Linked DNA regions of Homo sapiens: all the other regions are linked to region 1. Evidence: fine-mapped QTL for protein levels in blood plasma. A gene starts in region 1. Each other region holds a variant in brackets. All regions are shown on one strand. Distances are between the middles of the regions. Region 1 holds the start of DPT (dermatopontin). Region 2 overlaps DPT (dermatopontin). Region 3 overlaps DPT (dermatopontin).

What was found. PIP is the posterior inclusion probability: the model's chance that the variant is causal. Protein levels are from antibody-based Olink assays in UK Biobank. Linkage for the fine-mapping came from a reference panel and not from the study's own genotypes, which makes the PIPs less certain.
Region 2: its variant is fine-mapped to the plasma level of the DPT protein (UK Biobank, PIP above 0.99). The variant lies in the coding sequence of DPT. If it changes the protein, the assay may bind it differently, which can mimic a change of level.
Region 3: its variant is fine-mapped to the plasma level of the DPT protein (UK Biobank, PIP 0.98).

Annotation. Positions count from the first base shown.
Region 1 is chr1:168,727,973-168,730,738 of GRCh38, reverse strand. DPT (dermatopontin) reads left to right here and starts at 1,533. Exons shown (of 4, transcript NM_001937.5): 1 at 1,533-1,869. The coding sequence starts at 1,565.
Region 2 is chr1:168,713,056-168,715,821 of GRCh38, reverse strand. DPT (dermatopontin) reads left to right here. Exons shown (of 4, transcript NM_001937.5): 2 at 1,476-1,601. Among named protein-coding and RNA genes, the nearest start is that of DPT, 15 kb to the left of the region's middle. The variant C/T (reference allele first, on the strand shown) is at 1,589.
Region 3 is chr1:168,696,790-168,699,555 of GRCh38, reverse strand. The region is part of intron 3 of DPT (dermatopontin); the gene reads left to right. Among named protein-coding and RNA genes, the nearest start is that of DPT, 31 kb to the left of the region's middle. The variant G/A (reference allele first, on the strand shown) is at 1,368.

The DNA.
Region 1 (2,766 bases):
TTTTTGTATTTTTAGTAGAGGCGGGGTTTCACCATGTTAGCCAGGATGGTCTCGATCTCCTGACCTCGTGATCCGCCCGCCTCGGCCTCCTAAAGTGCTGGGATTACAAGCATGAGCCACCACACCCGGCCTCAGTAGTTTCTTTTAAAGTTAAACATACATTACCTTGTGAACCAGCAATCTCACTCCTAGGTATTGACCCAAATGAAATAAAAATTTGTTCACACAAAAACCTATACATAGATGTTTATATCAACTTTATAATTACATTTATGTAATTCATTATATAAAATATAATGAATATAAAATTCATTACATAAAAAGTAATGAATTTTCAAAAACTGGAAACAACCCAAATGTCTTTCAACTAGTAAATGTATAAACAATCTGTGGTACATCCATGCTATGGAATATTACTCAACAATAACAAGAAACAAAATACTAACACATACAATGAGATGTTGAATTTTAAAATGGATGAACCTTAAAAGCATTATGCTAAGTGAAAGATGGACATGAAAGGCTACGTGTGGTATGATTCCATTTACTTGACATTCTGGAAAAGGCAAAACCATAGAGACAGAAAGTAAATCAGTGGTTACCAATGGCTGGGTGTTTGGGAAGATTTGACTGCAAAGGGATATAAGGGGATGTTTTGGATTGATGGAACTGTTCTAAGTCTTGATTAGGGTGCTGGCTATGTTACTGTACATTATGTATTTTAAAAGGTGAATTAATTATATGTAAATTATAACTCAATGAAAAGAAAATTCAATGTGAGGGCAAAAATACTGAAGGATAAATAGGGGGTTTATTTAGATTAAACCCATTACATTTTGAGAGCAGAGCACACTTTCTAGACTTGACTGGGTCCAATTTCAGCAGCATGGTAGAATGCTTAAGTGTAGAAATCATATCCAACTTATCTCCCCATGGGCCCATAGTACTTCCTTATGCAACTTATGAGTTCTCAGAGTAGCCCTGCAAACTGGTATACCCGCGCTTATACTCAAGGGTTAAAAAGTGTTGGATTGACAACTTAAAAAAAAAAACAGGCATTCAGCCTTACAGAAATCCTAGATGGCTCTGTTACTTCAGTCTATGATTTCGGTATTTTGAAATCACTGTCTGGGTATTTGTGTGGCCCGGAAGGCTAGTTTGGAGAACAAATACAGGGGTTTGCTAGTAGCGGGTAGGGTAGGACAGAAAGGGGTGAGGTGCTGAAAGGTGAGGGACAAATATGCTACTAATCAGTGTTTTTCAAGTGAATATTTCTACAGGGTAGAGCAGCAGTTGGCTTTTATAATCTAGATACAAAGTTGTTCTTTCTCCAGGGAGCTTCTTAGACTTACATGCTGCTGGTATATTCCTAGAATTCCACCTTAAAACAAGCTGAATGTCCTTATGGCTGACATCTCAGCATGGAAAAGTTTTGCTTAAGCAATGACACACTGCAGTTGGATCCTTCTCACCCACATCTGGAAGCCACATGTCAGCGGCAGCTATATAAAACGGTCAGACCAGCAATCTTAGAGTGACATTGTTTGCCAAAATCCCAGGCAGCATGGACCTCAGTCTTCTCTGGGTACTTCTGCCCCTAGTCACCATGGCCTGGGGCCAGTATGGCGATTATGGATACCCATACCAGCAGTATCATGACTACAGCGATGATGGGTGGGTGAATTTGAACCGGCAAGGCTTCAGCTACCAGTGTCCCCAGGGGCAGGTGATAGTGGCCGTGAGGAGCATCTTCAGCAAGAAGGAAGGTTCTGACAGACAATGGAACTACGCCTGCATGCCCACGCCACAGAGCCTCGGGGAACCCACGGAGTGCTGGTGGGAGGAGATCAACAGGGCTGGCATGGAATGGTAAGGGCCAGTCCCTGCACTGCACTGGGGCTGGGAACATCTCTGCATATCCCTCCTCCTGGGGGCTGCTAGACTCTCAAGGAATATCAGTAACCAAAGCCTGGGCAAATCCCACCCCAAACCTCACCACTGCATGCTCTGGGTGGAGCAGGGCTGCTGCTGAGCGGACTACATGACAGGACAAAAACCTGGGATGGGGAGTGTCTGTGGGAGACAGACTCCTCTGTGGCTCTGTTCCTTCCAGAAGCTGTTCTACCTACTCTCAGTTTGGGCCAGGGGCTGGTGTAGGTCGGCGAGAAGCTTGCTTACCAGACTACCAAAAGATATGTACAGAAACTGAAAGTAATAAACTTTATAGAAATTAAAACTTTCTGTGCCATCGGAATGGCATTTTTCTTTTTTAGAAATTTATTTTTACCATTTTACAAAAGTACTGGCCCACAGTAGTTTGGGAACAAGAAAAATAAACAATTGATCTCTCAGCACGGAGGGTTTGAGAACTATTGATTTAGAGCAAGTGAATGGAAAAGAGGGGACAAGGACATTTAGGCAAAAGAAAGTGGAATTAAATAGCTGTCTACTGCCTTGATTAAATGTGCTCTCTCAATTATGAGTACTGAGGTCCTTCTCTCTGCCTGAATTTAAAGTGGGTTTTATTGCTGGAAAATAGTTTACTAAAGGGTTTTGGAGAGAGGTGCTGTCTTCCCCTGACTGCATTCTGCCTTAAGCAGTGGCATGGAATTTTTTCGAGCTTGTACTTTTTTGTGGGGTGTGATTGTCTCAGCTGGGTCTCAGCCCAGGTGCTTGGTCAGGAGCTCATCCTAGTAGGCACTGACTGCTAGGCTGATTATTTACAACAGCCTAGATGGAGCCAGCACTCTAGGAGGCTTGGAGGAG
Region 2 (2,766 bases), 15 kb after region 1:
CTGAAGAACTATTTTGGAAGGGTTTGTGAAAGAGCTCATGCTATAAGGTGGAAATCCACTGGATTTCATCAAAGGGCCATGGCTCACCATACCCATCTGGGCTTTGCATGCTGTGTGGGGGCAGAACAAATGATCATCCTTGTGCTCAATTTCCAGGGCTCTGCTGTTAAGCAGAAGAAATGTTTATTTGAAATTCGTCAATACATTGTGCTTCTCTTTGTCTTCTTTTTATTTTAAATTCCAGTAAAATGAATTATAATATCTTTTATTTTAAATGACATGCATAATACAATCTTGAATTTGTAAAATTCTAGATGTAAAATTCTAGATCCTGGATAAGTAGCAAGAACAGTGGAAATGCCCTGACTGTGTAGAGCTTATGGTCTTGTGGGTGGTGGAAAGATTCCTGGATAAGTAGCAAGAACAGTGGAAATCCACTGTGGTCAGGTAGAAAATAGTGTTATCATCACAGCAAAAAGTGGGAAGCCTGAAGACGCCATAGGAATTGGGCCCAGGAATGGGAGAAAATCATACTAGAGATGGAACAAAGGAAGAAATGATTGTACTATTCTAAGTCAATGTTTAGTTCAAAAGGTGCTGTGAAGACCAGCAGCAGCACAGGTAGAATGAAAGAGCAAAAATTATTTCTTGTCTGTGGACTGGAGTGGAGCGGTTATATATTTGAAGAATTAGGACTAAGCAGCTAGGACAGGAAAGGGATCTTTAGAGGGGGTTTGAGGCATTCAGTTGGCCTGTTGCAACTCTGTAAGGACTGCCTCCACAGCCAGGATTCTTGGTGGCCACCAGGAATAGAATTCTGAGAAAAACATGCCATGGCTGTGTAGAGCTTATGGTCTTGTGGGTGGTAGAAAGATTCCTGGATAAGTAGGAAGAATCTGGGTTGTGGTCCCAGCTTTCCTACTGGGCTGCCCTGGGCACATTCACCATGCCCATCTGGGCTTTGCATGCTGTGCAGGGGCAGAACGAATGATCATCCTTGTGCTCAATTTCCAGGGCTCTTCTCTTAGGCAGAAGAAATGTTTATTTGAAATTCATCAATACGTTGTGCTTCTCTTTGTCTTCTTTTTATTTTAAATTCCAGTAAAATGAATTATAATACCTTTTATTTTAAATGGCATGAATAATACAATCTCGAATTTGTAAAATTCTAGATGTAAAATTCTAGATCCACCCATTTATGCAGGCTTCCATCTAACAATATATATTGAAAGAGGTATGACAGGGGCAGTGTTCCCTAAATTTTGTTCAGTTAGAAAATTCTGAGTCACTTAAATTTTAATGGAGGGGCTATGTTATTTCTACAAATATAATAAAGACTATTATTTGCATAAAATGGAATAAATTGTTAAGAATCTAGGTCAGAGAAAGAGTGTGTAACTGTGGCAGTGGGGTCTTGGGAAGGGGTCTGTGTATGTGTCACTGTTCTTAGGTTCCTGGGGTTGTCTTCTCTTCAGGTACCAGACGTGCTCCAACAATGGGCTGGTGGCAGGATTCCAGAGCCGCTACTTCGAGTCAGTGCTGGATCGGGAGTGGCAGTTTTACTGTTGTCGCTACAGCAAGAGGTGCC[C/T]ATATTCCTGCTGGTGAGTCTGGCAGCCGACCAAACCCTCATGACTCCTGGGGTGGGAGAGGCACCTAGGAAGTGCTCTAGCTTCAGGTAAGCTTGAGGGTCACACACAAGCCTGGAAGGCAGCGCTGGCATATAGACAAGAATGAATGAATGACTTAGGAGGATGTTCCCGCCAAGAGGGATCTTTCAGGTTATCCAACCCCCCACATCCTTCTTTTGGCAGAAAAGGAAACAGAACCATAGAGCCGGCACTGACTGGCCCAAAGTCACCCACCTACTCTGTGGGAATGCCAAGTCTTAAGCTTAGGCCTAATGACTCCCATCCCAGTGCTGTTCTCCTTCTCCCCAACTTCTGGTAACTTCTCATCATATCCAAGGCTGCAGGGCCTATTTGGGAACCTAGTTTCCTGTAGTCTTTCTCTGGGAGAAACCAATCCTCTCATGGGTCAGAGTCTAGTACATAGTTATAGACAGAAAAAATAAAATATTAAAAAATTAAAAAATTAAAAAAAAAGATTGTGCTGTTTTCTGGATCCATTTGGAATTCCAGCCTCTGATGTTTTGTTTCTTTCCCTATCCCTGGGCTCATGCCGAATATCTCCTGACCTAGCCTTCCAATTGACTAGGAGAATGTGTATATTGTCATTTGCCCTGATGACTTACACTGGGTGTTGATAACACAACCGGCCCAGGTTTTTTTAATCTGAAAATGAGCCAGGCATTTCTGCCTTGGGCAAGGGGATCCAGAAGTGTCAACATGTGAAGGTTGGCTCCCTCAAGTGATTGATCTCTCTACAGTTTGATGCTTGCAAGGACAGCTTCACAGGTCATGCTTATTCTCTGCAATCAGACAGCTTACTCCACAGATGCCCAGTGGCACACAGTATCTCTAGGGATACAAAGCCCCAAAAGCTTAACGTTTTTCTTTTTAAAGTAAGGACCGATAGTAAATTCAGAGCTCAAAGTCACCTGTCACTGTATGATGGAGCAGAAACCTCCTCTAGTTCTTCAAAATCGCTTCCATAAAGCAGCTTTTACTCCTCTACAGTGGGTGAACAGGCCTGGCAAAGGATTACGATGCCACTGGGATAGGTCCTGAACCAAAGACCTAAAGATCTCTTGCAGTGGAGGAGGTAGAAGGAGCACCAGTTTGGGCAAAAAGAAACTTGAGTTTCAGT
Region 3 (2,766 bases), 31 kb after region 1:
ATGTTGCAGGCTGATCAGCAAAAACCTTTATGTTTACCCATAGGCAAACCACTCAGTTTGCACACATTACTTATTTTTACTTTAGATACACTTTAAACTAGCTTAGTTACCAATTTTCTAGAAGCAGCAAATTAGAAAGGGAAACGAGTATATACTACTTAGAATGAAACTCATTCCACCAATGAGAATAAATAGCTGGATGACATGATAACAAATATGCTTAAGAAAAATAAAGAAAATGAAAGGCTCAAGAACTCAAAGAACATGGGTTGTCATTTAGCAGGGCCATGCTCCCCAAAGTGCAAAACGAAATAACAGGGGTGCTCAATGCTCCAAATGATGACTTCAGCTCAACAAGAAAATTAGTTCTATGTTCCCTGTTTAAGAAAGCAGGAATTAATACAGTAAAGGAAGAGTGCCATCCAAGATTAGTATGAAATAAATATATCTGAGTAGTTAAAATGCTCAATTCAGTTTTCAGTAAATTCACTTTTTAGTAAATTTTTCGGTTATGTGGATTACCCAGAATCATGAAAAACTGAAATATTATGTCATTGCATTAATTTAAAATGAGTATCCTCCCCCCAAAATAAAATAAAATAAATATACTCATGCAACTTTGCTACTGTCATCAAAAATAAGTAGCTTAATGATCCACAACTTGGGTTTCTTCTCCTCTGCTGAAAGATGCTGAGGTCCCCAGCTTGGAGAACTATTGTCAGGGCAGGACTCCTTGTGCAAGAGCTTTCCCTCCACATGCAAATCATAGTGGTTTCCTCTTAGAATGCTGTTGTTCCATCTATGCGCTATTGACATCTAGGGCCAGATATTTCTTTGTTTCAGGGTCTGTCCTTTGCATTCTAGATGTTTAGTCTACCCACTAGATGCCATTAGCACCCCACCCTAACCAAAAGAAGTTGCAGACATTGCCAAGTATTCCCTTGGGGAGCAAATTTGCCCCCACTGTCCTGGTGTGAAATCAGAGACTGAACCTGGTGGAATCATTTGGTCTTCATAAGACCAAGTCTAAGTTTTGCTCAGCATCAATTAATAGCCTTCTAAAAGAGTAGTTTGAATGCCTGATCATAAGATCTTGTTTATCTGTGTTTGTTGCTACACAGATAAATAAGACCTGGCTGCAGTAATTACAGACATTTGGTAAACCCACAGGCCACCAATTTTCTAATTTCCTTCTAAAACAATCTATGACCTCTTTTGACAATTGCAGGAATCAAAATATCACCCAGGCCCTGGTATCACCCAGACCCTCAAGTTGATCACCCAGATTTGTGTTGAGGGACTCTATACCCAATTGTTCTAAACAAACGACCCGGAGCAACAGACTCAGAATTAGAAAGCCTGCCTTA[G/A]GCTGTTTGAGCAGAGTGAGCCCTGCTTCCTAGGACTAAGAGCAATCAGCCCCACTTTTCAGTTTAGAAGCTGGATGGAGGCCTTGTTAGTCATAGTGTTTAGGATAAATTGTTGAAAAGAGGGCTTGCAGATTGAAAAGGGAGATAGATAATTCTGAGTTTGTAAAGGACCCCACCAAGCTTTGGAATGATTTGCATAATTAAATATGGAAAAACTCTTCGTTTTTGCCCTTTATCAGGACTGTGCAAAGGGCATGGCAGCCACGTGTTCTTCTGGGCTTAAGATTACCTAGTTAGGCAGACTGTGTGGTTTAAGAGAAAGACCAAGATTTGAGTACAATAAACTGCGAATCTGAAATTGTCACCTATTACTTGTATTACCTTAAAGCAAGTTAATTATTTCTCTGAGCCTGGTTTTTCACCTAAACAATGAATCGTTGTGAGGATTAAAAGAGAAAACACGTAAAGCATCTGGTGCAATGCCAGATATATTAGAGGCTACAATTATCATTATCACTGTTCAACAGTATTAGACCACAGGAGTGTCATGCAATGTAGGCACTCAAAACATTTCTCTTAAATGGATGAATAAAGAACATAAATTCACCCTGAGCAAAGAACATTCCTTGAAATGTATCCACACCACATTTTTCAAAATTTAGTAATGCTATGTACACTCTTCCCATCCCCAACCACTTAAACACATAGGCAATTCATAACAATTCTTGTGATGCCAGAATGGCAGCCATTTTCTTTTTTAATTTAAGGGACTTTTTCATTCCTCTGTAGCAGTGTTTTCTGAAGGGAAACACATGTATAGCACAGAGCCCAGTGCATGGTGAGCACTCAGCATATGTTAAGTGCTCAGAAAGAGTCAGTGGGAAAATGGACGGACTTTTTAAAACAAGATTTTTTTCTTTTTTTTGAGACAGGGTTTCACTCTGTCACCCAGGCTGGAGTGCAGTGGCACCATCTCGGTTCACTGCAGCTTCAACCTCCCGGACTCCAGCAATCCTCCCACCTCAGCCTCCCAAGTAGCTGGGACTACAGGCATGCACCACCACACCCAGCTAATTTTTTGTATTTTTTTGTGGAGTCAGGGTTTCCACATATTGGCCAGACTGGTCTCAAACTCCTAGCCTCAAGCAATCCACCTGCCTCAGCCTCCCAAAATGCTAGGATTGCAGGTGTTAGCTACCAAGCCCAGCCTAAAACAAGATTCTTTACAATGAAATGGAGATGATGTTAAATAAATGCTTTTATTCCAAGCTGTTAACCCACAGGTCCTTGAGGTACTTTCTGGAGGCAGCAGGGGTGAGCTGACCACCAGTGATGAACAGAGGCCTCCACACAGCCAGTGACCTAATTAGTCACCTTCAAGGGTGACCTGAACTCACAG